Linked DNA regions of Homo sapiens: regions 1 and 3 are each linked to region 2. Evidence: fine-mapped expression QTL. A gene starts in region 2. Each other region holds a variant in brackets. All regions are shown on one strand. Distances are from middle to middle.

Region 1 (10,314 bases), 26 kb after region 2:
GCAGAATTCATTATGATGAGACTTTAGCTGTACCAGGTAACAGATTGCCAAATAAAACACCAAACAAGCAAGATTGGTCAGTTACAATCCAGTCTGTAGTAGTCTGATCCAGCATAGTGTTATGTTTATGGATTCAATTCCCTCCTCGAAGTCATACAATTGAGGCATCTCAGTAGAAATAAAACAAAATAAACAAATTTTGTAGGGAAGCTCCTATACATTTGAATGGTAAGGGCATATAACTATTAATACTTTATGAGACCATGGTATTTTGCAGCCAATCTTAAGGATAAATCTACATTGTGTTCAGGATTCTGTGTTGGGCCAGACTTAACAATGACCATTATGTGTAGAAAATAGCAACCATTGTTGCTGAATTAAACTCTCTCTGGAGATTTAAACATTTTTTTAAAAAATTAAGCTAATAGGCCAAGCGTGGTAGCTCACGCCTGAATCCCAACACTTTAGGAGGCCGACGCGGGCGGATCACTTGAGGACAGGAGTTTGAGATCAGCCTGGGCAACGTGGCGAAAGCCCGTCTCTACTAAAAACACAAAAAGATTAGCCAGGCATGGTGGTATGCATCTGGTCCCAGGTACTCGGGAGGCCGAGGTGATAGGATCACCTGAGCCTGGGGGAGGTTCAGGCTGCTGTAAGCTGTGATTGCACCACGGCACTCAGCCTGAGTGACAGAGGGAGACTCTGTCTTTAAAAAAAAGAAAAGAAAAGAAAAAGCTAATAAAACCTTGATGACAACATAGCCAAAGAAATTAATCAGAGAAGAGTGGTGATTAGAAACAGAAAGCATAGTGGAATAGATGAATTACACCTGGCAAAGGAACTCTAAACTATATTATGTAAAGCTCAGGACAGTCTACTTGTCTGAAAAAGAAATACCAAAAGTATACACATGCAAAAATTTGGATTTTTCAGCTGGACTTTTTGTGAAAGGTTCCCTCCCACCCCAAATTCAAAAGAAGTATAAAGCAGGCCATTCATGGCAAACTCCCAATGAAATGGAATTAATTTGTATTGTGTTTTGAAAGTGTATATATGTGCTTGCAGGAATTACATGGAAGAATTATACTGACATAGAGTGGCTCTCAAAGTGAATAATGGAATCTTAAGGATGTTTTATTAAACAGCGAGTCAACTATTTTTCTCCGTGAATGTGACTCCACAATGATAGTGGAAGTCAGAAAATATTTCACATGCAAATATATCTGAAATTCTTCATGGATGTATTTAACGCTTTGAAGTGATGGCAACATCTGGTAGCAAGTAGAAGCCAGCGTCTTAAAAGCTATGGCTTCATGTTACTACTTCATCTGAATTAGTCATTTAAAGGGGATTTTATATGTCTTCCTAAAAACTGACGAGGTTAATCTTAGACTAGGGCAGGCTGGCAGGAAATGCTAAAGCGGCTCTTTCTTTTGAAGGTTTTGTTATTCCTTGTGAGGTCAAAAAGTAGTTGTTTTAAAGTTTGGAAAGCTAAAGCAGTGATGTTTTGACTCTTGACAGTGAGATGTTTTTCTTTTTTTTTGGGGGAGGGTGTGTGTGGCAAGTTTGAGGAAAAACTTGATACACTGAGAGTTCTTTATACTTTCCACTCCACTTATTTTCTCTCAAATGAATTTATTTTCTAAAGGTGCAGAATTTAGAAATTCGTTTCAATTACCAAATCTGAGCATGGATTTGGTGCTATTAGAAGATGTAACCACCATGTGTTTGGCCAGATTAGCTTTCAGGAATGATCGTATCTTACAGAGTTAGCCAATGGAACAAGAGTAGATGCCTTTTATCCTTATTTATTTGCTTTGCATTAAAAAGACAAATGCTGAAAGTTTATTCTTGACTATGAAATAAACCACTATAATATATGACACTGAGTTAATTCCTTTAGGATGCTATGTCTTCCACATACATCCATTTAATAAATATTTGTTGAGTGCCTACTGTATGCCAGGCACTGTTCTATAAGCTGAAAATAGATTGCTGGACAAAACAGACAAAAAATCACTGCCCTCTTAGAGCTTATTAAATACGAAAACAGTAGAGCAATTTAAAATTATTTAATGCTATCACTCAGCTTTTAAAGATCTTCACTGAATGAGTTTTGAGAACTTTTGCACATATTATCTACAGCTTGAATAGGGAAAAAATGACATTTTGTTTGAAATCTAGTTCAAGAAGCTAGAAGCTGATAAGTAAAGTAAATATTTTATTCTGTGATGATCATTTTCAGTTTTCATTTATCAGTGTTATACTTAGGCCTCTTGAGGAATGTTACTAGTTTAACTTGTGGATTTCCTCCTGAGGATGGGCTTAATTTGTATTGGGGGAGGTGGTGAAAGGACCTAGTAGCCCTGGAATTTAATGTAAAGTCGTGGCATTTGTAAAACTATCTTCTGTCATTTGAAAAATTATAGAATACTTAAATGTATTTAATGCTCCCTGTGGAAAATGAATGTATTGCTCAGTTATTTTTGCCTATGTGAGTAGTACAAGAGCTGACTCAAAGGAGATGACATGATGGTTCCTGTCCTGAAGTGAAATAAGATGATGGGTTGTGGTGGAAAAATGATGTGGTCATGCCCATATTTGCTCACATCTCTTGTTAGTTTCCTTTTATAGAGGGAAACCAGGGAAAGTCTCATTTCTTATTTTTTGTTTCCTTTTTGTATTTTCTTTCATACGCCATTTCCCTTTCTTTTTTTCTTAAAATTGCATTATAGTGACTTCCAATTCAATTGGATCAAGTTGTACTTGGTAATGACATAAAGAAATACCGCTTAGAAAGGTCATAGTGGAAGCATTATACCCATTTTAGGGAATTGATTATATATATAGACACAGCCACTCTGAGCCCCTTGAGGATATGAAAAGCATGTTGCAGAAATCCTCATATTTCCTGATGCCAACTAGTATAGTGCCTTTTACAGAATATATGCTTAATCGGTATTTATCTATTGAACAAATATGAGCCATGAAATTTAATTTTGCTCTCCAAAATCCCAAGTCCTTTATATAAGTAGGCAGAAATTTTAAAAAGTCTTTTTTTTTGTTTGTTTGTTTTTTGAGACAGAGTCTTGCACTGTGGCCTGGGCTGGAGTGCAGTGGTGCAATCTCAGCTCACTGCAAGCTCCGCCTCCTGGGTTCAAGATTTTCTCCTGCCTCAGGCTCCTAAGTAGCTGGGATTACAGGCACCCGCCACCACGCCCAGCTAATTTTTTGTATTTTTAGTAGAGACGGGATTTCACCATGTTGGCCAGGCTGATCTCAAACTCCTGACCTCGTGATTTGCCCTCCTCAGCCTCCCAAAGCGCTGGGATTACAGGTGTGAGCCACTGCACCCGGTCTAAAAACTTATTTTTATGGAATTATTCAAATACATAATGTAAAATAGCATTAAAAACCCCCAGCTTTAACAATTACCAGTATTTCATGTTCTTATTTCATCTTTGCTCTCCCCTTTTTTGAGATTTGCTTTAAAATAATCCGCATATTGTTTTACCGATAAATACTATAGTATACTTCTTAGTTTTTAATATTTTAAGATAGTAGTGTTTGCATTTCATATGGAGTTTTACTTTTAAACCCTTTCTGTGCTACTTTATGCAAGAGAAAGAAATTCTTAACCGCTTATCAGAAGAAAAATCTAATTTTTTTTTTTTTGACGGAGTTTTGCTCTTGTTGCCCAGGCTGAGGTGCAATGGTGTGATCTCGGCTCACAGCAACCTCCGCCTCCCGGGTTCAAGCCATTCTCCTGCCTCAGCCTCCGAATAGCTGGGATTACAGGCCTGTGCCACCACACCCGGCTAATTTTGTATTTTTACCGGAGACGGGGTTTCTCCATGTTGGTCAGGCTAGTCTCGAACTCCAGACCTCAGGTGATCCACCTGCCTCGGCCTCCCAAAGTGCTGAGATTACAGGCGTGAGCCACTGCGCCCGGCCAAGAATAATCTAATTTGCTGTGTATGAGTAGGATGTTAACTCATTTTGTAACATATATTTCCTTTCTTAATCTTTTAAAAAATTTTATTAAAAGTTTCTAAACAGGCCGGGCGCTGTGGCTCACACCTATAATGCCAGCACTTTGGGAGGCTGAGGCGGACAGGTCATGAGGCCAGGAGTTCGAGACTAGCCTGGCCAACATAGTGAAACCCGGTCTCTACTAAAAATACAAAAAAAAAAAAAAAATAGCCATGTGTGGTGGCAGGTGCCTGTAGTCCCAGATACTTGGGAGGCTGAGGCAGGAGAATCGCTTGAACTCGGGAGGGGGAGGTTGCAGTGAGCCAAGATTGTGCCACGCACTCCAGCCTGGAGGATGGAGTGAGACTCCGTCTCAAAAAAAAAAAAAAAAAGTTTCTAAACAACATTGTACATGTTATGTCATGACTGTCATGATAAAGTCTTGCCTTTTAGACATGAACCTGATTCAGCAAAATGTGCTTTGAAGTAGATAAGCTGTAGATTTTTGTCTTGCCTGAATTGATATTAAAGAGATGTTTTTTCTTTTCACAGTTCAAAAGTACAGAACTCAGGTTAAAACCTAGATATGTAATTTTGTTAATTTTATTTTCAGTTTGAAAATTCTTGTTAAAACCTGCATACTTTATAGGTTTGCTGTCTCTAAAATTAGATGGCTCCTTCATAAATATTACTGAATAAAGCACCAGTTTTCAAAAAGTGTGGCACATGGGCTCATGGGGGTTAAAATTACTTTCATGATAAAACTAAATTGTTATTTGTTTTTTCACTGTGTTAACATTTGCACTGATGATGCAAAAGCAGTAGTGGGTAAAGCTGCTGAATCAAGATAGTGGCCCCACACTGTAGTGATAGCCACTGTATTCCTCAGCACCATACCATCACCTTTAGAAAAAAATCTTACAACATGCATTTCATTTACAAATGTACTTGATGAAGCAGGAAAAAATAATTGTATTAAATCTCAATTCTTAGGTATGCATCTTTTTAAATATTGTGTGTGATGAGATAAGACATACCCATAAAGTATTTCTGCTGCATATGGATATATGACGATCGTCTTGAGGGAAAGCACTTGCGCAGCTGTTTGAGTTGTGAGCTAAACTAGCTGCCTTTTTAAAAATAGAAAACCAGGCCGGGCGCGGTGGCTCACGCCTGTAATCCCAGCACTTTGGGAGGCCGAGGCGGGCAGATCACGAGGTCAGGAGATCGAGACCATCCTGGCTAACACGGTGAAACCCCGTCTCCACTAAAAATACAAAAAATTAGCTGGGCGTGGTGGCGGGCACCTGTAGTCCCAGCTACTTGGGAGGCTGAGGCAGGAGAATGGCGTGAACTAGGGAGGCGGAGCTTGCAGTGAGCCGAGATCGCGCCACTGCACTCCAGCCTGGGCGACAGAGCGAGACTCCGTCTCAAAAAAAAAAAAAAAAAGACAACCAGTTTTACTTTGAAAGATTGAATTAACTGATTATTCAGACCCGAGTATCTAACAGATACTTTATTTTTAAAAAATGAACCAAGTGTGCCTCTCACTGCAAGGGAAACAACTAAGAGTATTTGTTGCCAATGCTAAAATTAGAGCTTTCAAGCAAAATTCAAATTTTTGAGAACTTGCATTGGTCACCATTTTATCCGATCAATACTTAGGCTTTTCTAGTGAAATCGACAGTATAATTAATGAAAATAATGTGTTAGATTTTGTATAATGAAATGTATCAGCATTTGGAAGACCCACATAACTTACTGAAACAATATTTTTCCAAATAACTAATGTATGATGTTACAAAATCAAGCATGGGTAAAAGGCCCATTCTAAGTGCAAGACAGACAAATAGATTTTGAAAAAATCATTGATATTGTATCAGACTCTACATTGCAACCAACCTTTGAAAAACTACCACTTCTCTCGAGTTTTGGTGTAGTATTGAAGAATATCTGTAAGTATCTGGAAAGCCTCTTAAAGTATTTCTTTCTTTTTACAACAGTTTATCTGTAGGAGGCCAGATGTTCTTCATGCACTGGAACCAAAACCGGTATTGCAAAAGATTGAATGCAGAAGCAGATATGAAAACCCAGCTTTCTTGTTCTAGGTTAAACATTAAAG[T/C]GATTTGCAACAATGTAAACAATGCCACCCTTGTCACTACACTTTTTTTGAAAATATAGTTATTTTTCATTAAAAAGCTTATGTTAACATGTAATGGGCTTATTCTTATTTTTAAACAAATAAATATCTTAAAAGTTTCGTAGTCGCAATTTTTGATGTGACAAATACACTGATAGATCTAACCCATGTGTCACCAAACTCTTTGGGATCCTCAGATCCTGAGGCCAAAAAGTTTAGGAACTGCTGAGTTGGGTTTTTTGTTGTTGTTTCCCTCCTTATCCCTTTGCCCCACCCCTCCACTTTTCTCCTATTCCCCTCTCCTTTCTTTTCTTTTTTTGAGTGAGAGAGAGACCCTCAGGATAGAAAATTGTAGAGCATGTGAGTTATTCCTTTGTATGTTTTTATTAGCTACGAACTGAACATGTATGTCTTTTAAATTCATTCATTGCCCCATGTGTAGTTCGATGTATTTTGACCTTTTCTTTTATTTATTTTAAAATTTTGATTACTTAGTTACACAAATAAAGAGCTAATAAATACTATCAGGGAGACAGCCCTTGGAATATTGAATTTTATATTTTCTTCTGCGACAGTCTTGCTCTGTCCGTGCAGTGGCAAGATCACAGCTCACCTCCTGGGCTCAAGCTATCCTCCTACCTCAGCCTCCCAAGTAGCTGGGACTACAGGCGACAGCCACCATGCCCAGCTAATTTTTTTGTATTTTTTTTGTAAAGACAGGGTTTTGCCATGTTGCCCACGCTGCTCTCGAACTCCCGGGCTAAAGTGATCCACCCACCTCTGCCTCCCAAGGTGCTGGGATTACAAGCACCAGCCACCACGCCTGGCCAGAATATTGAAATTAAGATATATTCTGACTTATTTTTCCCCAAATATGAAAAAAATGATTACATATATGACTTGATTATTAAAATTGACACATCCATGCAACAAGTTTATATACCTAATGCTGTGCCTGGTATGAATTTCCTAAACTTTCCAATATAGTCCCAAAATTACAGTAGTAGTTTCTTGAATGTAAACTTGTTGCCTGTTTTATATGTTAGATCCCTTTGCTTCTATGCTTCACTCACTATGTTTGTTTGTTCGCTTTGTTTTTATAAGTCATGAAGATGGAAAAAAAACTGTTTCATGAAAGGAAAATAGATGAGTGTTGTTGAGGTGTGTCATTAAGCACAGTGGGAGAGGCCTCCAATGTACGTGTCACACATGGAAAGTATACCTAGTACTGGGTGTGGTGGAGAGCATGACGTCTGGATGAAAGTTGTAAGAGACTTTAAAAATACTATGCCTAGCTTTTGTGTTACAACTACATATTCCACTGATACTTATGTGAAACTCCCATAACTTTTCGGGTTGTACCTCTTTTTTCCACCCTGGGGTGGGAGTGTGTCCACAAGTGCATGTGTGTGAACTCTTAACTTTGTGTTTGTATTTTGAGATGGAGTCTCTGTGGCCCAGGCTGGAGTGCAGTGGTGCAATCTCTGCTCACTGCAACCTCCACTTCTGGGGTTCAAGCTGTTCTCCTGCCTCAGCCTCCCAAGTAGCTGGGACTACAAGGGCACAACACCAATCTGGCTTTTTTGAATTTTTGGTAGAGACGGGGTTTCACCACGTTGGCCAGGCTTGTCTGGAACTCCTGACCTCAGGTGATCCGCCCACCTCAGCCTCGCAAAGTGCTGGGATTACAGGCCTGAGCCACCGCGCCCAGCCCGGCCTGAACTCTTAACTGTATGGTTTCTGTTTGTAACATCTAGAGAGAGTGACAGTGAGAATTTGGTTTCCGTCGGCTTTCCTTAGCATTCATTTTGATGAATTTGGGATGCAATTTAAAAGCTGTTTTCATTCTGTGGCCTGCTGATGAAAATGTAGAATTTATTGCAGAACCCTTGCCACCGTCTTGCATTCCCAAACCAGTGTTCATTACCCATAGTAAAAACCGAGATCCTGTTCACACACATGCACATACACAGACACGCTCCCCACCGCCCCCGTCACGCACACACCCACACACACCTCGGATGGTGAGTGAGATAGAAGTTTAGTTTACATGCTAAAACTGGTTAAATTACTGATGTGGTAGAACTGTCTTTTAGCCCGGGCACAGTTGCTCACACCTGTAATCCCAGCACTTTGGGAGGCCAAGGTGGGTGGATCACCTGAGGTCAGGAGTTCTAGACCAGCCTGGCCAACATGGTGAAAACCCGTCTCTACTAAAAATACAAAAATTAGCCGGGCATGGTGGCAGGTGCCTGTAATCCCAGCTACTCGGGAGGCTGAGGCCAGAGAATAGCTGGAACCCGGGAGGCGGAGGTTGCAGTGAGCTGAGATCGAACCACTGCACTCCAACCTGGGCGACAGAGCGAGACTCCGTCTCAAAAATAATAATAATAAATAAAAGAAACAAAAAACTGGCCGGGCGCGGTGGCTCGCGCCTTGTAATCCCAGCACTTTGGGAGGCTGAGGCGGGCAGATCCCAAGGTCAGGAGATCGAGACCATCCTGGTTAACACGGTGAAATCCCGTCTCTACTAAAAATACAAAAAAATTAGCCGGGCGTGGTGGCGGGTGCTTGTAGTCCCAGCTACTCAGGAGGCTGAGGCAGGAGAATGGCATGAACCCGGGAGGTGGAGCTTGCAGTGAGCCACGATCCCGCCACTACACTCCAGCCTGGGTGACAGAGCGAGACTCCGTCTCAAAAAAAAAACAAACCAAAACTGTCTTTATGTCCTACCTAGCATTTACTAAGTAGAAGATGTGCCCTTTTGAAGGGCATGTCTATTCCTAGAACTTTAACTACAATGCTTTGCAGTAGAAATATATGCTATTGTATTAAGGTGAAGTGACTTTAGAATTAGTAACTCGGTGTTGACAGATCATGCTGATCGAAGATTAGCCTTGGAGTTTGGAAAGCTGGAGAGCATGTATATTCCAGATGACCAGGAAAGGAAAAGTCAGAAAAACAGTTTTTAAGTAGTACTGTTATAACGACCTGTAAAACTTGAAACGAGAGAAAGCTGTCTTCTAAAATGAAGAATTACATATTTAAAACATTAATTTCCTCAATGATACTGCTACATATCTGAAAAGGGTGGTTACGTAGCATTTGGGACAGACCCGTCTCAGTGGTTTGAGGCAACAGGTGTGGCTGAAGAAAAGGTAAGGCTGGGGAAAAACCAACATTTCTGGTCTAAACTGATACTGTCTTCTTACCTGAGGCAGTTTCCTATGCCCTGGTTTTCTCTGTCTGAAAAATGCATGATAACACATACTCTTCAAATTAGCTCAAAATGCTTGGTAGTTACCTACTATTCCCTGACAGGCCACAGGCAGATAGTTCTATGCTTGTTTTAGAAATGGAGAATTTGGTACTCAGAAAAGTTGAAGAAGCTTCATTTCATTCACATAGTGAGTCAGCAACAAAGACAGACGGAAAAACATGTCCTATGACTCCTGCCATTGTATTCCTTCTCTTCTGCATTGTGTTGCCTTTTGATATTTCACGAAGGTTTTGTGATTGGTGAAATAAATTAAAGCACTTCCATGAAGGAGACAAAATGTAACCCAGTGTCTGCTGATGGTGGTTAGTGACGAGGACAGGAGAACACTGCCTCATAATGGGGACTATCCGGTGAGGGCTCCTTTTCACAGGTGCCCACACTGTGAGTCACCTCCTTATGCTGAGAGTTCGGTATGCTATCATAAAATACTTTGTTGTGTATTATTTATGAAGGACTAGAGTATCTATTGTCTCACTTTCTTTCATTCTCATGAGGTAGATTACAGCAGCAGATGGCATTATGCATGCTTTATCCCAGACACAAGAAAATAATATCTGCCACTTACTGAGTACCTTGCTGGACCCAGACACTCTTACATATTTATATCTTCCCATTGGGTCATCCCGTGGACCTTGTGAAATATGTGGAATAGCTCCATTGTTATAGATATGAACCCAGGGCTCAGAGAAGCTAAGTAATTTGTTCAGGGTCACACAGACTTACAGGTCTGTCAGACTCCTAAGACCCTGATGCTTTCATTGTGCTGCATTTCCTTCAAATTATGAACTTGCCCTATGTCAGCACAGAAACGGCCTCTTCAGCCTAGCCCAGTGCTCCAACTGATTGTTCTCTCTCATAAAAGGCACTCACAACTAACCACTTGCTTGATTTAGGAATTCACTGATTAGATTGCTAGACCAGT
Region 2 (10,314 bases):
GAGCCATGATCGTGCCACTGCACTCCAACCTGGGTGACAGAGCGAGACCCTGCCAAAAAAAAAAAACAGTATTTCCATACATAGTGAACTGTAACCTAAACAGATGTGTAAACACACTGTAACCCTCACTTGTAAAAATTACTGAGTTTTGGCCAATAAAAGCAGCCAATTGTTCAAATTGAGTTCAAATAAAGCAAATGCCAAGGTGTAACCAATCCAGCTATTGCTGTACCCCACTTCCATTTTCTGTATGTCACTTTTCTTTTTCTGTCCATAAATTCTCTATGAACATGTGGCAGCACCAGAGTCTCTCTGCACCTAGTCTGGTTTGGGGTGGCTGCCCCATCGTTCATTGCTCAATTAAACTATGTTAAATTTAATTTGTCTGAAGTTTTTCTTTTATCACTTCCTAGGAATGAAAATGGTTTTCATTTCTACTTGCCTATATCAAGTCTTACCCATCTTTGTCAAGCCTAGCTCAAGTTCCATTGCACAAAGGATGCCTTCTACAACTGCTTTAGCCCTATTATTCTCATTCTTTTCAGCCTACCTACGGTGCTTCTTATATATTCTATCTTGAATTGTTTTCTCATTATTACAGTTATGTGGACTTTGATCTTGAATTAATATTAGACTATTAATTCGTTGTGTTTTGAGACCATACTTTTTCTATGTTGCTTATAATAGTTATCTGATTGATTAATTAGATATTTAACACCCAGAAAGTCGGGAGAGGGGAGGGTGACACTTTAATTTTGAGCATTTCCAGTGATGATAGTGATCTTTGTTAAATCTACATATTATAAAGTCCATACTGATTAAATATGTCCTAATCCTATTAAAGAGACTTCAATTAATTTTTTGTTTTTTATTTTTTAATTTTCTTATTCTCAGATACTGATAATTTTTTTTTTAACAAGTGAAAATCTGAAATAAGCTTGGACATGTCAGAGTAATTTCTTTATGTGAATGTGCGTGTAAGATAGTTGGCCTGCATTAGCAGGCATTCACATTCATAATAATCTTTAGGTTTGAAAAATATTTGACAATTGCCTATTCACTATTAATATTCATGTCCTATACATGTGTACATTTTGAGTTGGAAACATAAAAACACTCCACTAATAAACAGTGGTAATAACTGTTCAAATCTGTATCCTATGGATCAAAAAAAAATTAATAATTGTCCAGGTCTTCCAAGATTTCCTCTATGCCAAATATTTTAAGTATGAGAGAAACCTTTAAAATCATACTTAATTTTAATAAAAATGTCATCTCACAGCACACTGAATAAAAAGAGGGATTAGGATCAATCCAAGAACCTAAAATATCACAACATGGAATAGAATTATCCATGAATTAAAAAGATGATTTAAAAAAGGATAATTCCTTGAAAATAATCTGATAAAATAAAATACAATTAATTAAAACAGATTAGTACACAATTTTACATTTAGAGACTGAGAAAACAATTAGGTGTGTTAGAAAAATGATTTAGTATTGAACTGATCAAGATTCTTTAAGTTATTCCTGGCTTATATAAAGTTTATGCAGCAAAATCATTTTTTAATAGACTACAGAAAGGAGGTTTTAAAAAAAATGATAAAAATTATCTCAGACGGGGTGAGGAAAAAGAAGAAAAAATAAAATAAAATAAAATAAAATAAAATAAAAAATGGATAAAAAGTTCAAGCCAGTGGTCAGGCACGGTGGCTCACCTCTGTAATCCCAGCACTTTGGGAGGCCAAGGCAGGTGGATCACCTGAGGTCAGGAGTTCGAGAGGAGCCTGGCCAACATGGTGAAACCCCATCTCTACTGAAAAAACAAAAATCGGCCGGGTGTGGTGGCAGGTGCCTATAATACCAGCTACTTGGGAGGCTGAGGCAGGAGAATCGCTTGAACCCGGGAGGCAGAGGTTGCAATGAGCTGAGACTGTGCCGTTGCACTACAGCTGAGGTGACAACAGTGAAACTCTGTCTCAAGGAAAAAAAAAAAAGTTCAAACCAGCAATGACATGTTAAGAATAAAGAATTAAAAATGGATAGAAGAGGAAACTGACAACTTACTCTAGGAAAATTTCAGGGAAAATTTTAGACTATGTACACATAATACATTGTGAGCTAGACTGGGGAGAGTGTTGGGCAGAACAATAGGAAAAAGAGCAAGAAAAAGGGGGATGTGCGTATCAAAAGGAGGAAAGAAAAGTAGTTTGGACAGACAAAAAACCTAAGAGAGATATTGGCGCCTTCTTATGATATCAGCGGAGGACAGGAAGAATAAATGGTTTTCAAAATTTTGTGATATTGACTTTAAGTGATTTATTACAAAGGCATTAGGATCGAAAATTGGAAATGGAAGGAAAGGTAAAAACTCTTAGGTTACTGATTCACAAGGTCTGTGAGAATCCTATATATATTAATAGCTTTTTGTTGCTGTTGTTTAACAAGAATAGACATAAAATAACCATTGGTTCAGCAAACATTTACTGAACTCCTATGTGTCAGGCACTATGCAAGTCACTGTCAAAATAAATTAAAGCCTATAAGCAGGTGGAGGGAACCCTGACAAACATCTGTGCAGGCTTTTTGATACAGATAAGAAAACAATCAACTTTGGGTTACTTCGTGAATGATCCTCTATGAGGTAAATTGATGGCATGAAAAATTATAAAGAAATGCTGTTTAAGAGCTTTGAGCCTGAGGATCCTTTCTTCCAGCAAAATGCTAAATTTGAAAAGATCCTTTAGATTCTGGGCAACACAAAGGTAGCTTAGTTACATCAAACTGGCTGGGTATCTTAATAGTATTCATTAAAATGGAGTTCTACCTGGATTATATAGTGGAGCTTGTTAAACAGGAATCTCAGCTAGCATCCAAATAGGTGCTTCTGTGTTTAGGGTGTGTTTTATCTGTTGGAAAGTTACTGAGGCAATGAGAACTAATGCCATCAGCTAGGTACACTGCAGCTTTGAAACTATGGACTATTGCATTTCAATTAAAATGACATTTCTTGACTGAATTCTGACATCCTCAGTGATAGTGGTGAATGAAGACTTTTATCAAAGTATAGATTCTATTAAGCTTTTAAAAAATTTTATTAATTTTTTTTGTAGAGATGAGGTCTTGCTATGTTGTCCAGGCTGGTCTTGAACTCCTGGCCTCATGCAATCCTCCCACTGCACAGCCTCCCAAAGTGCTGGATTACAGGCGTGAGCTACCCTACTCGGACCAATGTAAGCTTTTTTGAATTAAAAACAGGAACTGTAAATAGCATATACGTAGGATTCTTAATATTTTTACTTTAAATTCTAGAATTTGAAAAATAAACTAAAATTGAATACAACGTAATTGAGACAAATATATCTGCACTGGAAAATTTAGCTTACAGAGTCCCTTCATGCTATTGCTCAGTCTGTAATTTTAAGTTTAAGAGCAGGTGGAAGCTCTTCAGCGGTGACCGACAGACACCATAAAAGGTAGAAAACTGAAAAAGCCTATTTCCTGTATCTAAAAATTTTTTGTAAAGAATTCCAGAAGTCACACCAAACCTTTGGCCAATTACTGAATGCTAGAAATCTCATTTGGGAGCTTACTGTAAATGTGTGTGGCAATGCACTGGCTCCATGTTCAATCCAACGCCAACATGTTGAAATCAGTATTTTTGTGCTGGCCCAAACCTGAACCAGTAGAAAATCTCCCATAACAGAAATTCAATGTTTGTGAAAGCATGATTGCCCTCCCATTTCTTTTTCACCTTCCTGTGCCTTTCATAAGTTCTTCCAGTTGGTTAATCATTAATTAATATTTAACAAGGCTTTTTCCTCGTGCCAAGTCCTCTGCTAGTCTAGCCTTTAGGCAATATATGAACTCCCCAAGTTCTTCCCTTTTAAGAAGCCTTGGCACTCACTACGGATTAATTTCTCTAAGGAAATTCATAATGGCAGATGAAATAGGGGTTCCTTTTCAAGAACATTCCATTTTAAAGCCTCTCAGCATTTTTTCCTGGTACATGTAAAATGCGACTTAATTGAACTAATTTTAAATGTTGACAGAACTTTCCAAGCACACATTTCCTCAACAAAATGGTTACGACTGGAACAGGAAAGGGCTTAGACTTTTTCTTCTACAGCTATCCCACAAGTCAGTCTCTTGACCTGACCCTGCAAAATCCCTCAAACTCTGGCTCTCTGAGTTGATTTTGGATATACGATGAACCATAGGTTTGGAATGCAGATAACCTCCACGTGTATTAATGAAAGAGGTCAGCTATGACGTGGAAGCCATCTCCTGGGCAGAGAAGGAGAAGAAATGGCAGTCTGGGGAGTAGTAACATGTCTCCAAATTTTCTCTGGTGAAAGGAGACTGATGAGAATTGATACCCATTTCCGGTCAAAAGAGTGGAACCAATGTACTTCCAACCACCTCCTCTCAACCCCTCTCCGCATGGACAAACATACCAGACAGGTGATGTGGGCTAACAATTTACTTGGCATGAGGCCAAAGGCTTGAGGGCCCTGCCCTGCCCATATTCTTCTCCCTTGACTTCTTAAGGAAAGGAATGATTGCTGATGTTTCCCTCTGCACCCTTTGGCACCTGGACTGATTGTTGCAGATGTAATTAGGAATGTTCCCCAACATGCCGTTATTCTTCTCACGATTCTGGGAGAAACTGTACCCCTCCCCCATAGACTTATATAGGTGGCATTCAAATTCTTGTTCCCAACTTTTTCATCTTTTTATTAATCCCACAAGATTGTGTGAATGTGTACTCCGAGCCAGGCACGTTGGACTTCTAACTTCCTCTTAGCCCAAGTAGGAAGGGGAGACTCAGGCGCTGGGGACCATTCTCCTCTCCCTGCAGCAGAGTTGCAGTCCCTATCCCTCCTGGGTGCCCATCCCCGTGCCTATTTTCCTGGATCCCCACCCAGTTGATGTGACAGGCTCGTGGCCCAATCCCCTTCCTGGTTCCCAGGCCGACTGCTAGCACCACCCGAGCCAATGGCGGCGGCCGAGGGGCGGAGGGGGCTGGCAGGAGGGGAGGGAGCGCTGGCTTTAGAGCCACAGCTGCAAAGATTCCGAGGTGCAGAAGTTGTCTGAGTGGGTTGGTCGGCGGCAGTCGGGCCAGACCCAGGACTCTGCGACTTTACGTAAGTGCTTTGTAGGCGCCGGCGGGCACTAGGGGAGCGGGTTTCCTGGGCGTGGGCAGGAGTGGGTCCCGGGGAGAGCATCTCGGTTAAGCTCAGCAGGAACGTGCGGCGCACCGTGGGGCGGGGGTTGGGGGAGAGGGAGGTCGGAGAAATTTCAGTTGGAGCCCTCGGGCGCCCGGGCGATCGGTCGCAACCGAAATGGGTGTGAGTGACGGGGAGTTTCCCTACTAGCATCCGCCGCAGACACGTTTTCTGCACTTCACTGTATTAAGTGGTGTTTTCTTACTAGTTGCTCTTAACTTGTTGCCAGTCTTGGGCTGGAGTCCTAGACGCCAGCCCTTGCCCTGATTCCCCTCCGCGGCTGCGGCCCCGAAGTGGAAAGGGAGCGCACAACTTCCCTCTGTCGTCCTTCTCCAGCTACTGCCATCCCCTCTTCCCTCCCGCCCGGACTCAGGAAATCCCGGAGCCAGCAGCCTGCTACTCCTCCAGCCCCCACACGCCCGCCTCGGGTGACCTGGCTGGCTTAAGCCGACCCTGGGGCTCTGGAGAGGGGGGGCCGTGGCCGAGGGAAGGCACGAGGTTTGGGTTGCCTGCCTTCTGCCTGCTTCCCTCCCTTGTCCTTAGCGAGGGCGTCGCGAACGCACCTAGTCTCCCTATGAGTAAGCACTTTTTTTCCTTTCAGTAGGAGAACATCTCTGGGCTAGTAGGACAGTACCTTTCCGTTCTCCCCTGGCCCCACACCCCCTGTCCTTTTTTCAGCTCCTTTGACTTTGCGGCCCCGGGCGCGCGGTCGGGGCGGCGGCAGTCCCGGACCTCTCCCGACTCTTGGAGAGGGAGAGGCAAAGGGGCGACGGGAGGGAGGTAATAGTCTACCCCCCCGCCCTTTCCCCGCACAGCTGCACTTGCCTGTGTTTACTTTTCTCCACCCGCAGTACTTAAGCGCTGTAATGAGAGGCCCGGGGACGCCGACCACCCCCGCCCTGGCTTCTCGCCAGTCCCAAAGTTGCTGCCGCCGTCGCTGCTCCAGTGTGCTGGCGGTTCCGACCGCCGGGCTCCGGGACGTAAGATGATCCCAGCCCGGGAGGTGGAGTGGGGGTTAATGGCATCTGACTCTAGCCTTATGCGATGCTCCTTGCCTCTCACCTGAGCTGCACGATATCCCCAGTGGTGCAGAAGGTTGAACTTTTGCAGAAGGTTGAGCTTGGAGCTAAGTGGGTTGGAGAGCCTCGCCATTTAGCGTCAGACAGACGGGATGCTGGGGGCGCCCGGCCTGTTAAGAGGGATTGGGAGGAGGGAAGGGAGCCTGGCTAACAGTAGGTAGAAAATGTAGGGAAAAGTAAAAACCATTGAGGGGCAAGCACTTACTCCACTTTGCTGGATGTCACAATGGACTGGGGAGCCTAAACTTGATCCTCGAGATGCAGTTCATGGTGAATTCCAACTAAGTGGCTGGAGCCCCACACATACCAGTTGGAATCACGTGCCCCAAGTCTCTGATGGTCACATGACGTCTTTTTACTTTAAAGCTGGAATGTAATGGTTGAGGCCCATATTCCAAAAACCACCTCTACGTTTGAAAAAAAAAAAGGTGGGGAGGAGTGTGAACTAGCTTCTAATCAAGGAAGTCTACTAGGATTTTGGATGAGGGGACCAGAAAGGGAATTTGGTGCTCAGCTTTTATCCAAAACAAAAACAGGAGCTGTTTTTAAAATAAGGGATTGAAATATATGTGAGCTGGGACATGTATCTCCTCTCTTCTTCAATCTCATGGTTTTTCTAAATTTAAAAAACATCTTACTAATTATTTTCTAGGGAAGTCATCCTATTACTCATGCCTCATTTTGTCCCTGAATACTAGATTTGAAGCTAAATCCCACAAGATAGTGTTAAAAAGTAAGGCTCTGTTCATCTTCCTTGGTCTGGCCTATATTCTAATTGAACTGTTCCCTATTTTAGGCAACTACTTAAAGGTAGTAAATAACCTCTTGACTAAAATTAACCACCAGTTATTTGTGGTTTTCAATTAACTGGATTAGAAATCATGCACAAAAACAGTGGATAGTAAATTTGATACATCGAGTTGGTTGGGTTTTTGCCTGTCAGTGGTTTGGTAGAATAATGAGAGGACACTGAAACAACTTTCCCATATTGACCTATACCCGCCCAAGTGGCCCAAGTTAAGGTTGCTTCTGGGAAAACGTGGCAATTTGGCTATTCAGATTATATATTACAGAGTATAGAAGAGAGGCAGAGGAGCCTCTGAGGTCAGGAGTTTAAAAGCTTTGCTTATCTGAAAAAAAAAGAAAAAACGGACCTGGTTGATGCATATTCAGTCTTGAAAACAACTAGGGCAGAAGATATTTAAGAGATTCTGACTTTGTATTCTTTTGCCAAAAACCCTTTGTCTCCTGCAGCAGCCTCTGAATGACCGGAGCACTCCAGTTTCTTGCTGTTCATCCGTTTCTGAGCCTGAAAACTAGAACAACCTTAAAGCACATTGTTCTGACCCCAAGGCTAGCCTTGTGGCACAGATGAGCTGGAAATGGATTTAAGGTGCACCTGAGTTACTAGAGTTAACTACACTGGTAGATAGACCCCTCTAGTGGAAGTGAGGTGATAATATAATTTTAGATCGAAATAATAAATGTTTAACCTCAAAAAAAGGAAGTTATTACCACTCAACTAGGTTACAGTGGTAGGGGGATAAGTTCTTTTTTAAGTATTGTGAAATCATGTCTAAACAGAATCATCGCTAGGCTCTAGTCCACAGCTTTTCATTGTCTTGGGATGCCTACTCATTGAACACCACCCCCAATATTGCTGACTTTTTTTGGTGGTATGATCTAATGAGCCCAAATTTTTATTGAAATTAGGGGGCTGGGAGTCAAATTCTTGATTTTTACTGTTAGATCTAGCAGATAGCAACCCCTTTACCTGAGGTGGGGAGCTATTAATAAATAAATAACACTTTGCCTTGACTTAATACAGACGATCAACATTGAAGTCCAAAGTCTCTAGTCTGATGTAACCATTTAGATTCAATTGATAAAAATGACTAGGCTTATGGCATTTTGGGTAGAAGGATTAATTATAACTAGTGAGTAATAATTTGGGTGAGATTAAGCCTCTTCCACAAGTGGTTACACGCACATTAGACTTTGACTGTGACTGTTTATACTGGCAGAATGTCAGTATCTAGGGCACTATCAGAAACCCAATGAGATTTTTCTCCCAGGAGAACAGAATTCTGTTACTGAAAATAAAAGGGCAGCTTGGCCATGGTGCTTGAGCACCAAAGTGGTTCTTTTTGGTGACACTGAGAGGGTACAAGAAGAAAGTCCATTTGCCATTATCCCATATTCTGTTTTAGGCATTATTTCTACTTGGATTTTCATGAAATGTACTGACAGTGTTCTTAGCACATATGATAAATTCATGAGTTTGCTGTTGTGTTTGATCTAGCATAATCTATGTGGAATGTATAAGCTGAACTGTTTCTTTTTTGATGTTTGGTACAGATTATGAAAGTAGCTGGTATAAAATAAAATTTGAAAATGAATATCTCTCAATACATGACAACAATGGGGTATCTGTTTTTAGAATCATGTTGTCTTTGGTCATATGGCAATTTTTCTTTTGGTGAAGAGTGATCCAGAAGGCAAAATTTTTGATCTGTGAAAATAATACAACTCATTTAGAAGAAGTCAGCTGGGTCATGTTTTGAGTCTGTATTATTTTAGACAGTGATATACCATATAATGTATATTCAGTGTGTTGGAGGTTTCAAAGCTTTTTGGATACATTACAATGTTGGAAGATTTTTATATACCAGTGGTCATGACTAGCTGATTTTAGTTATGAGAGCGCTTTGGTTAAAGTTATGGAAACAGTCTAATCGTGAAATGTCAGTCTTAGAAGATCTGATCATACTTGGGCCAATTTATTTTAGTTACGGAGGTGAGACAATTTCAGAAGATTCACGATAAATTTAATAATACCAAATTTTGCCTTAGTCTTGACACTTGGAAGATAAATATTAGTGAGTATAAACTGTTTTAGGGATGAAGAAGTATTGTTAGTATACAAAAATGAAAATACTAATTATTTTAGCATGGGTCTTTTAGTCCTTTGCAGTCTGGACAGATAGATTATCTTAAGTAAATCATTGAACTTGCCCTCAGAGGAATTAGATTCTAGATAGTGCTCTGCCATTGACTCATAATTTGACCTTCGGAAAGTCATTTAAAATTATTATATTAATAACTAATTGAGTACATACATGTGCCAGACACCATTCATGCTTTTGTTTATAAAAAGAGAGGATTGCTCAAGCTTTTTGGTTTGCTGGGTTTTATTTTTTCAAATATTCATAATCTGGCTTATTTCACTTATCAGTTGACTTTTCAAACTTTGATGCAATTGCATTGATCCAAGCTAAATACTTTGTTGGCAAATTGATGACTATTCAGGAAAGTGATCACCAGTGGGTTATTCCATGACTAATGTTAGTTCTTTAAAATAAAGAGGTGCCATTTATTTAATTCCTTGACAGGGATTTTTGGTGCATTAAGCCTACTGATTTTATAATATGAGAAACCTTACATTTTCTTAAAAGTTTAGAAACGTATTTGATAATAAGGAGGTAGTGTTGTTTATTGGAAAAGCATTGAGCATAGAATTTAGGGTCTTTTAGTCCTTTGCAGTCTGGACAGATAGATGATCTTAAGTAACTCATTGAAATTTTCTGTGGTCATATCTGGGTTTCACTTTATTTTTAAGCCATGTGATTCCAATCTACATATTTCACAGGCATGGTAAAAGGATAAGTGAGAAACGTGAAGCCTTGGCTTTTAAGCAGACAGGTGCTATATAAATTCAAAGTACTGCAGCAGTGTATCATAGAAACACTAAAGCTTTAACAAGAGTTTACAGAAATGGCAGGGTTCTCATCACGTAAGTCTTGCCACATTTTTCTTTGTCTGTAAAAGTTCTGCACCCATCCAATTTTTACAAGCAAAGGAAAAATAAAGCCAGACATATTATAATGAAAAATAAGAGACTAGGTTGATAACAATAGAATAAAAACCTACATGTGATACTTTCTTCTTCTTCTTTTGTTTTGTTCTGTTTTGTTTTGTTTTAAAGACGGAGTCTTGCTTTGTCGCCC
Region 3 (10,314 bases), 43 kb after region 2:
AGCTCAAGCCTGTAATCCCAGCACTTTGGGAGGCTGAGGCAGGAGGATCACTTGAGCCCTGGAGTTTTAGACCAGCTTGGCAACATAGTGAGATCCTGTCTCTACAAAAAAAAAAAAAAAAAAGAAATAAAAATTAAAAATTAGCCGAGTATGGTGGTGCATGCTTGTAGTCCTAGCTACTGGGGGTGGGAGGTGCTGAAGCAGGAGGATCACTTGAGGCCAGGAGTTGGAGGCTGCAGTGATCATGCCACTGCACTGCAGCCTGGACATCTCAGCAAGACTCTATCTCAAAAAAAAAAAAAAAAGGAAAGAGGGAAAAAACAGTTAATTACCTTTCCTCCAACACATGCTTTTGCTTTTTTTTTTTTTTTCCAGCTATGCTTGGAGAAACACATTATTATTATTATTATTATTATTTTGAGGTGGAGTCTTGCTGTGTCGCCCAGGCTGGAGTGCAGTGGTCCAATCTCGGCTCACTGCAGCCTCCGCCTCCTGGGTTCAAGCAATTCTCCTGCCTCAGCCCCTTGAGTAGCTGGGACTACAGGCACGTGCAGCCAGGCCCTGTTAATTTTTGTATTTTTAGTAGAGACGGGGCTTCACCATGTTGGCCAGGATGGTCTTGATCTCTGACCTTGTGATCTGCCCGCCTCGGCCTCGCAAAGTGCTGAGATTACAGGCATGAGCCACTGCGCCTGGCTGAGAAATACATCTTTTTAATTGTGCTTCACAGCTTTGTGTCCTGGGCAAAGTCAACGACTATCCCAGGCACTTGTTTATTCCCTAATACAATTTAGGGAATGAAGTTATGGAACTCTACAGACTTCTTAGCTTTCAAATTCTCATTGCTGTGATCACTGGATATTGGGAATACTGGGAATTTTCACTCCCTCTAAACATTGCAGTTGGTTGGAGTATTTTATTCATTTTTTATGTTTATTTTTTTAGAGGCAGGCAACCATAGCTCACTGCAGCCTCAAACTCCTGGGCTTCAGTGATCCTTCTGCCCCAGCCTTCCTAGTAGCTAGGACTACAGGCTCAGGCCACCATGCTGGCTGATTTAATTTTTTTTTTTTTTTTAAGAGAAGGAGTCTCGCTATGTTGTACAGGTTGGTCCCAAACTCCTGGCCTCAAGCAGTTCTCCCACTTCTGCCTCCCAAAGCACTGGGATTATAGGCATGAGCCACCACCCTCAGCCTCAGTTGGTATATTTTGTAAACCATGCCTGTGTAACCAACATCCAGCAATGAGAGTAAAAGGTGAAGTTTAGACTGTTCTCCAGAAACAAACAATCATGAAATGAGACTTGCAAAGCAAAGAATTACACAAGTTTTTGTGTGCTGTTCGTGAAAGAAGGATTTTCTTTTATTGAAGAAGATTGTTCTCTTTGACCAAGTTTAAGAATCTATGTAAAGAAGGTAGATAAACTGAACCAAGTAGGACAATGGAAGTCCCAGTTAGACTGACTGTCCTCATATCCACTTATGTAACTATAGGGAGAAGTCTATAATTAAATTTCAAAATTTTGTGGCAAGATTCTAAATTCTCTGGGAGTTGAAGAGAAAGATCAGTGGGAGGTGGAGTCATTGGGAAACGTGCTTTGGGAGAGGATGAGGCTTCTGAACCTTGCTTGAAGGGTGAGTAGAATTTGGATAGAGAGAGAGGAAAAATAGAGGAGAGTATTCTAAGCATGAGACGCAGATAGAGAGAGAGGAAGTTCTTAATGGAAGACAGGAAAAGCAGAAGAGACCAGAATAAAACAAAAGGTACTGATAGAGGAGAATCCAGAACCAGCTGTAATAGAAACACAGTTCTGTGAGAGTACTGGGAAGATAAATTTTATCTTGGGTGCGGACAATCTGAAGATACTTCCTGAAATAGGCTTTTGAAGTGTCTAGATAGATGGGTGAAGAGCATTCCACTGGAGAGACCCAGTGGTCTCTCCAGGGAGTGGAAGAAGCGGGAAAATACATGGCCTGTTTGGGGAATAAGGTCTCTTGAGAGTGTTGGGTTCAAGGGTGTAGTACATATAATGGGAAGTAGCATTGGAAAGATGGGCAGACATAAAGCTAGAAGTCAAGTCAGAAAAGTGTAGGGCCTTGAATGCTGTCCTAAAAAGGTGGGACCTCCTTTTGCATGGAATGTTTATAAGATCCGCTCTTCAGGAGATTATCAGGAGATTAGCAGTGTAAAGATTGCACTGGAGGAAGACAGAACAGCAGGCAGATCTGATAAAAAAAAAAAAAAACTTTTGTGGGGTTGGGGGAGGGGGAAGGGATAGCATTAGGAGATATACCTAATGTAGATGACGAGTTAATGGGTGCAGCACACCAACACGACACATGTATACATATGTAACAACCCTGCACGTTGTGCACATGTACCCTAGAACTTAAAGTATAATAAAAAAAATATATAAAAAGATAAAAAAAAAACTTGTGGAGTAGGCCAGACATGAGGTGATAAACAGATATGACGGAAGAATCTCAGATATTGCAAGGCAAGAATCCAGAGGGATGGGTGGTTGACTGATCCTCCCTTTGTTTTTTATGGTCAAACTGCAGTCTGGAGACAGAGGAAAGTGGGAAAGTTGAAAACGAGACCTGATTTGGCAGAAGAAAGAGTTAGAAAAAAACAGGGAAAATAATGTGGCAGTAAGTTAGATTGGAGACACTTAGACTTTCCTAACTTGAATCGTCCTCACTGACTTTCCTTCTCCCTTGGCCACTTCTAAATTGGACCCTGATCTGCTGCTGCGAGTGTGTCTGTCACTAACACAAGGCACAATACCCTTACCAGTGATGTCTCTCTGAGAATGCCCTTACTGGGGATGTCTATCTGAGAAAATCCTACTTGCACTCAAAGACAGAGTTCAAGCCTCACCTCGGAAAAAACTTTTCTGACGCCTACCATTTAGTATATATGACTGTGATGGCATGATTGCACTAATGTTGTATCTTTGTTTTTCCATCTGTTTCCCCCACTAGACAGTAAGCTCTTCCAGAAAGAAGGGGATTTGGATCCTAATTGTCTCTTATCTGGAGCACCCAACACAGTGCCTGGTACATACTAAGCCTTAAGTTAATGCTTGATTAATATAAATAAATAAGTGGGTGAGTGTGGTAGACATTCAAGCTGGGAATCTTCTAAAGTCATTAGGAAACATGAGACTGGAGCTTTAGTAATCATAGTATGAATAGGTGAGTTTTAGCCCACAGTGTTGCACACCCATCTAAGCTAGAGACTAGTGTTGAGCTGTTCACTTACCTAACTAGGGAGGTGGCAGGGTGGCAGTTTCTATTGGTAAAGGTAGGTATGCAAAGTGTGGGTGTTCAAAAGCACTGCCTGTTTTGGATGGAGGAAGGTGACAACACCCCTTTTCTGATCATTCTTGAACTGTTCACACATAATGGTGGCTAACTTGTTTATTTTCATTTATAGTGAAATAATGTATTTCTTCCATGTTTTGTCCCCTCTTTGTTGCTTTCTTGTTCATTTTAGGACCTCAAGTATGTGTTGCCCAGTCTCTGATTTAAGTAATGAGCTTCTCTTTTCCAATTCTATTTACCATACTAGTGGCTGGGATGAAGCCTGTGGTGAATATCCTGTTTTTATCTTTTGGCTGCCTTTCAATTTAAAAAAAAAAAAAATCAAGTTTATGATCAAAGTTGGTTACCCCCAGATGAGTTTCCCACGTGCATTCTCTTTCTCCTGGACCTCATGGTACTGAATGACACAGATGAATAAGTAGATTATTCAGTCAGCTGCATTCCTAAAGTGAGTGAGTGCTTTAGGAGATAAAATAGGCACCCCCGTCCCCCTTCAAATACCTTTCAGAATTTGAATAATAGTTTCAGGTAGTTGTAGGTATACCTTTCTCAGCAAAGATCTGTGTTTAGGGTTTATGTATAGTTAAATGAGCCGGTGGAGTGGTTTCATAATTGCAGTATTGTTAGTCAAACTCTGTAATTAGAGATGACTTCATAGGCATAAGATTCTTCTATGGGTGACGCCCTGAATTCATACCCAATTGTACACTATATCCTTTTATGAAAAAACAAACAAACAAGGTTTTGTTTGCTTTTGTTTTACTCCCTTATTTGAAAATCTGTTTTCCTGTGTCTTATATGTTTAGTGAAGAAGGGCTGGCTTTTTTCTACAGCTTTCCCTTTTCCTTTACAGAAATGGCAGGCATAGGAGCTAAGGAGGAAACAGAATTTGGGACAGATCAAAGTGCTTTGCAGATGAGCGAATTCAGAAAAACGTAGAGACTCCAGGAGGTTTTATTTTTGATAAGTATTAAAATTGCTGAGTTTAAATGGAGGAAAAATATATCTCTATTTCTTTGAATGTCAGTTCTCTTTCTCTCTCCCTCTCTCTCATCATGTAAATAAAGTCCGCTTTTGCTTGGTGGCACACATCTGTATTCTCAGCTACTCAGGAGGCTGAGGCAGGAGGATTGTTTGAGCCCAGAAGATTGAGGCTGCACTGAGCTGAGATTG[C/T]ACCACTGCCTGGGTGACAGAGTGTAACCCTGTCTCAAAAAGAAATAAACACATAAAGTCCACTTTTGTGGGAAGACAGACTGGGAAAGAGGACATATTTGAAAATCAGGGTTTTTTTCCTTTTGCCTGTCAATCACATATTGTGAAATCGGGGTTAAACTTTTATTCAGCAAGTAATACTTTCTCTTCACCTTTTTCTAGTACTCATGAAAAAATTTGCAAATTAGGAGGAATGTGACAATATTGACAAGCTGTTAGCTATTTTGAAAAGTGATCCTAAAATATTTAAAGAAAAATTGTTGTTTGTTTGTATATCTCCTGTCTGCTCTTTAAATTGTGTTTAGAAACTGGCCTTACGGAGGAACCAAATTGAGTCATGGATAAAAAGTGACTGACAGGTTTTCCTTTAGGCCCATCCTTCTTAAATTACTTTGACTAAAGACTTGTAATTTTTATATATGAGGGAGACCTATTATACTCTGTAGTCAGTAATTATAGGGAGATGAGATAACTTTTCATTTATCCCATGTAAAAGGCTATTAGTAGAACTAATGCCTTATATTTATTTATACAGCTCTTCACAATTAACCCAAGCATTCATTTATTCCCTATTTTCTTTCATGAAGGATTTGAAGTTGCTATGTAATACTTCATAGTTCACAATATGCTGTCATACATACCATCTGTAATCTTCATTAGGACCTGGGGGAAGTAGGTATTATTATCACTATTTTCAAATGAGGAAACTTAGGCTGAGACAGATTAATTAAACTTGCTCATGGACACATTACTAGGGAATAGCAGAACCAGAGCAATAATCGATGCCTTCTAATTTCACGTCCAACATCTTTCTGTTAAAACATACTACAACCTTGGGCGCGGTACAACAGCTTGGTGTACTGGTACTTGAGATTAAATGAAGTGTCTACAGGGCAGTATTGATGTCAAATCTTGTGTTTTGCTTTGTGAACCCATCCGGGATGTTTTAGTAACTTTAAGGGAAAAAAGTCCTATAGTACAATGAATGCCCCATGAAGAGGAATAGAGCTTCTGTTATTTTAATTTGTAAGATCTTTATTTTTTAATATCTTCACTCATTTCCAAGTTACTTAATGTGATGTTTTCTCTCAAGATAGTACTTTACTGCTTGACTTCCTTAAAGACACCATCAAGTACCTATGAGTAGTCTTAAGGACAGACCATTTTTTAATTCATAGTGGCATAAAGAAATCTACATTAAACAACTTTATTTTAAGCTTCAAATGGCAAAATGTACAATTGTATCAGCTAGAGCATATATTGTGAGCTTTTTAAATTTGGCTTTATATTTTTTAGTCTTGGCCCAGGTACTTCAGAGTAGCATTTCTTTATTTCCTTTCAAATAACTGTCAATAAATGAATATGGGTTTATTTAAATTGGAAAGTCCTGCATTAAACTATTCTGTTATCCTGAAACAACCTTGTCTGGAAATACGGTTTTAAGGATATGTGCATGTTCCAATTCCTTCTTTTTGTTCTCATTGAAGTGTATCTCTTTAATGTCTCTGATAGATGGGAAATCTGAGTTACATATGCAAAGTCACTTTAGGCTTTTTAAAAGGCAATTAGAAATAAGAAACTTGAAAATTTTAAAATATATGTTTAATGCACTGGATTAATTTTTGGACTAAACTGGTGCCCTAAAATTATTTCTATGAGATCTAAGCATTTCTTAATTCATTTTTATTTTTTACTTTTTTTATTGAGACAGGGTCTTGCTCTGTCACCCATCCTGGAGTGCAGTGACGTTCTCATGGCTCACTGCATCCTCTACCTCTCGGGCTCAATCGGTCCTCCCACCTCAGTTTCCCAAGTATCTGAGACTACAGGCATGTGCCACCACCCACGATGCCCAGTTAATTTTTTGTATTTTTGGTAGAGACGAGGTTTCACCATGTTGCCCAGGCTGGTCTCGAACTCCTGAGCTCAAGCGATCTGCCCACCTCCACCTCCCAAATTGCTGGGATTACAGGCATGAGCCAGCACTTGCTAATTTTATAGGAAGAAAAAAAGAACTGCGTTTCTGGCCACTCTGAGAAGAAATTAATAATCCTTAAAGTCTCTAGAGACTTTTTTCTTCTAAAAAAATGGATATTTGTACCTTTTATTGCAGTCACTAATTCACTTTATGTCATATTGTAATTATTCATGTTTGCTTCGCAGATTGTAAATTCCTTGAGGGCAAGAACTAGGTGTATAGCAGATGTCTAAAATATTGGTAAAATTGTTTGAGAAGTAGCGGGGAGGGGCAGGTTGGGGAGAAAGAGATTTCTACAGGATTTAATCAGAACCCAACTGGTCAGCAGGGATAAGGGGGGCGGGGGGCAGGAATGGTTTATGTCCAGAACCATCTTATCTAATTTCTTTTTTTTTTCTTTCTTTTTTCTTTTCTTTTCTTTTTTTTTTTTTTTTTTTTTTTTTGCAGTGATGCACTGATGGCTCACTGCAGCCTCGACCTCTCAGGCTCAAGTGATTCTCCCACTTCAACCTCCAGAGTAGCTGGGATTACAGGCACGCACCACCACTCCTGGATAAGTTTTGCATTTTTGGTAGAGACAGGGTTTCACCACGTTGGCCAGGCTGGTCTCGAACTCCTGGGCTCAAGTGATCTGCCCGCTTTGGCCTCCCAAAGTGCTGGGATTACAGGCATGAGCCACTGCACCCAGACCTAATTTTCTTTTGCATAGAAGTGATATGGTAGTGTGAGAGTAAGCTCAGTTGTATAGGTTTGTTTTAGTTGTTTTTTACCCACATACTTTAAATTATTACTGACTCACTATCTGCCCAAACTGGAAAGGACCTTTAGAGATAAAGGAGAGAGGCCACATGTTTTAGATTTCTGAGATGGTCTTACTTTTAAATTTTCTGTGCCATTGTTCTCCTTGGTGTGTGATTCATGGAGATGTGTAATAATTCTTTATTAAAAACATGATTGCTTAAAAGGGGTGAAGAAAATTGGAATAAATCCTATGTCGTATTTTTGTAATGGGGAGTGTTGAACATATTAGTGAAACAGAATATTTTTAGAATTACTACTATTCGTTTGCATTTAACTTACGAATTTTAAAAAAAAATTTTTTTGGAGGCGAGGTCTCACTATGTTTCCCAGGCTTGTCTTGAACTCTTGGCCTCAAGCAATCCTCCCGCAGTGCTGGGATTGCAGTTCTTTTTATTCTTAATCTTTAAAATGCCTAACTTCAGGCCTGGGCGTGGTGGCTCATACCTGTAATACCAGCACTTTGGGAGGCTGAGGTGAGTGGATTGCTTGAAGCCAGGAATTCAAGATCAGCCAGGGCAAAATGGTGAAACCCCATCTCTACAAAAAATACAAAAATTAGCCAGGCATGGTGTCCCACGGCTATAGTCTGAGCTACTTGGGAAGCTGAGGAGGGAGAATCACCTGGGAGGGAGGAGCCTGGGAAGTCAAGGTCGCAGTAAGCCGTGATCTCACCACTGCACTCCAGTCTGGGCTACAGTGTAAGACCCTGTCTCAATAAACAAACAACAACAACAACAACAAAAAAAAAACCCACAAAGCCTAACTTCATTACTAACTGAAGAACTTTCTTTCCCTCATAGATCCTGAGATTACTCTGAAAGGTATTTTCATCCAACCTGTCTACTGAGAAGTTATCCATCTTTAGTGGCATCTTGATATCATACATAAGAAAAGTTTATGAATAGGCCAGCTTTGTTTTATATCTTTTTTAAAGAGTCTAGTGTTATTTAATTTTTTTTTTTTTTTTTGAGACAGAGTCTCACTCTATCACCCAGGCTGGAGTGCAGTGGTACGATCTCCGCTCACTGCAACCTCTACCTCCCAGGTTCAAGCGATTCTCCTGCCTCACTCAACCTCCCGAGTAGCCGGGATTACAGGCACCCGCCATCACACTTGGTTACTTTTTGTATTTTTAGTAGAGACAGGGTTTCACCATGTTGGTGAGACTGGCCTCGAACTCCTGACCTCAAGCAATCCACCCGCCTCCACCTCCCAAAGTGCTGGGATTACAGGCGTGAGCCAGTGCGCCTGGCTGATGGTTTTATTTAATTTTTAAAACACCAGTCACTGTATGTGTCTGTTACATTATGGTAAAAACTTAGCTAATAGCATCATATGGTCATTTTAAAACTTCTCCAGGATTTGAGAAACCTGAGTGTGAATTCCAGTCCTGAGAGCCCAGGTCTTCTAATAGGAAAAAAAGGAGATTAGAATATTTAGCTCATAGGACTATTGTGAGGGTTTAGGAAATTAATATGCAAATGAATTTGTATAATGTATTAATAATACTTGGTGCATAGTTGTTGAAGGGATTAATTTTATTAAAGTTCTGTTTTATTGAGTGCCTTACTATGTGCCAGGGGCTGTGATAAATTCTAGAAATAGCAACAATTCTGTGAAAAAGATAGATGTAGCCCAGCTCTCTTATGAATCCCTCCCTACCACTTCCAGCCCCTACCTCTCTATACTGAGTGTTACACTTCTTGGCCAAAACATAAGTTGGTGAGTAATTTGTTGCCTTTTAATAAAATGTCTAAAAGGGATAAATGTAAGATCTCAAAATGTATTTTGTATAGTTTGTGAAATTTAACCCGTAGTATATTTTTTTGGAAAGGCAACATCTTTAGGGCAGTGGAACTACTCTATGTAATATGTTAATGGTGGATACATGTCATTATACATTTGTCCAAACCCACAGATTATACAACACTAAGAGTGAACCCTAATGTTCACCAGAGTCTTAGGGTGGTAATGATGTAAGTTCATCAGTTGTAACAAACGTACCACTCAGGTACAGGATATTTTGGTCAATGACTGATCGAATGTATGATAGTAGTCGCATAAGATTATAATACTATATTCTTACTGTACCTTTTCTATGTTTAGATATACGGATACCATTGCATTACAATTGCCTACAGTGTTTACTACAGTAACCTGCTGTGCCATTTGTAGCCTAAGAGGAATAGGCCATACCGTATAGTCTAGGTGTGTAGTAAGCTATACCATCTAGGTTTGTGTACGTGCACTCTTTGATGCTTGCACAATGGCAAAATCACTTGACAATGCATTTCTCAGAACACATCTCTGTCTTTAAGCAACACTTGGCTGTATTTGGGAACTCTCTGTAACTTCTGCTTGATTTTGCTGTGAACCTAAAACTACTCTAATAATAATGTCTATTGGCCGGGTACGGTGGCTCACACCTGTAATCCCAGCATTTTGGGAGACCGAGGCGGGAGGATCCCTTGATCCCAGGAGTTAGACACCAGCTTGGGCAAGGTGGCAAGACTCTGTCTTTACAAAAAAAGAGAAAGAAATAAAGAAAAATAAAGTCTACCAAAAAAATAAATCAGAAGAGAGAAAAAACCCAAAACAAAAAAGGAGAAAGGAACATGTAATCATTTTCATTTTTCTTTGTCCAAAATTATTGTTATAATAGGTTTGCATTTGGAAATTATCTACTGTGATACAGACCTCCTCTCTTTATTGCCAGGATCAGCAAAGTTTTTCCATATAGGTTCAGATCATAAATATTGTGTGCCAAGAGGTAAAATCAAGAATATTATGATATTAATATCAAGGATATAATATATTATTTCTATCAGTTTTTATTGACAAAATTCAAAATATAATAATTGAGTACAATTTTTTGGTAATACAATTCTGATAAGAATAGAATTCTTTTTTTCTGGGATAACATTTCACTTAATTGGGTTCAAAGTTAATGTGCCCCCATCATCAAAATGGACTGCAAAAATTTTCCTTTAATAACCA

Alleles and levels. Alleles are on the strand shown, and positions count from the first base shown. SD is a standard deviation of normalised expression in the study named. Not every link is listed here.
In carriers of allele C in region 1, the expression in pancreas of the gene that starts at base 5,061 in region 2 tends to be higher than with T alone (small effect, 0.39 SD a copy in GTEx).

Evidence for each region. PIP is the estimated chance that this variant, and not a neighbour inherited with it, causes the effect.
Region 1: its variant is fine-mapped to the expression of PLS3 in pancreas (GTEx, PIP above 0.99).
Region 3: its variant is fine-mapped to the expression of PLS3 in whole blood (TOPMed, PIP above 0.99).

Annotation. Positions count from the first base shown.
Region 1 is chrX:115,582,331-115,592,644 of GRCh38, forward strand. The region is part of intron 1 of PLS3 (plastin 3); the gene reads left to right. Among named protein-coding and RNA genes, the nearest start is that of PLS3-AS1, 25 kb to the left of the region's middle. The variant T/C (reference allele first, on the strand shown) is at 6,095.
Region 2 is chrX:115,556,114-115,566,427 of GRCh38, forward strand. PLS3 (plastin 3) reads left to right here and starts at 5,061. Exons shown (of 16, transcript NM_005032.7): 1 at 5,061-5,147. PLS3-AS1 (PLS3 antisense RNA 1) reads right to left here and starts at 6,618. Exons shown (of 3, transcript NR_110384.1): 1 at 6,513-6,618; 2 at 6,291-6,417. RefSeq lists enhancers at 5,835-6,610, 9,981-10,314.
Region 3 is chrX:115,599,232-115,609,545 of GRCh38, forward strand. The region is part of intron 1 of PLS3 (plastin 3); the gene reads left to right. Among named protein-coding and RNA genes, the nearest start is that of PLS3-AS1, 42 kb to the left of the region's middle. The variant C/T (reference allele first, on the strand shown) is at 4,500.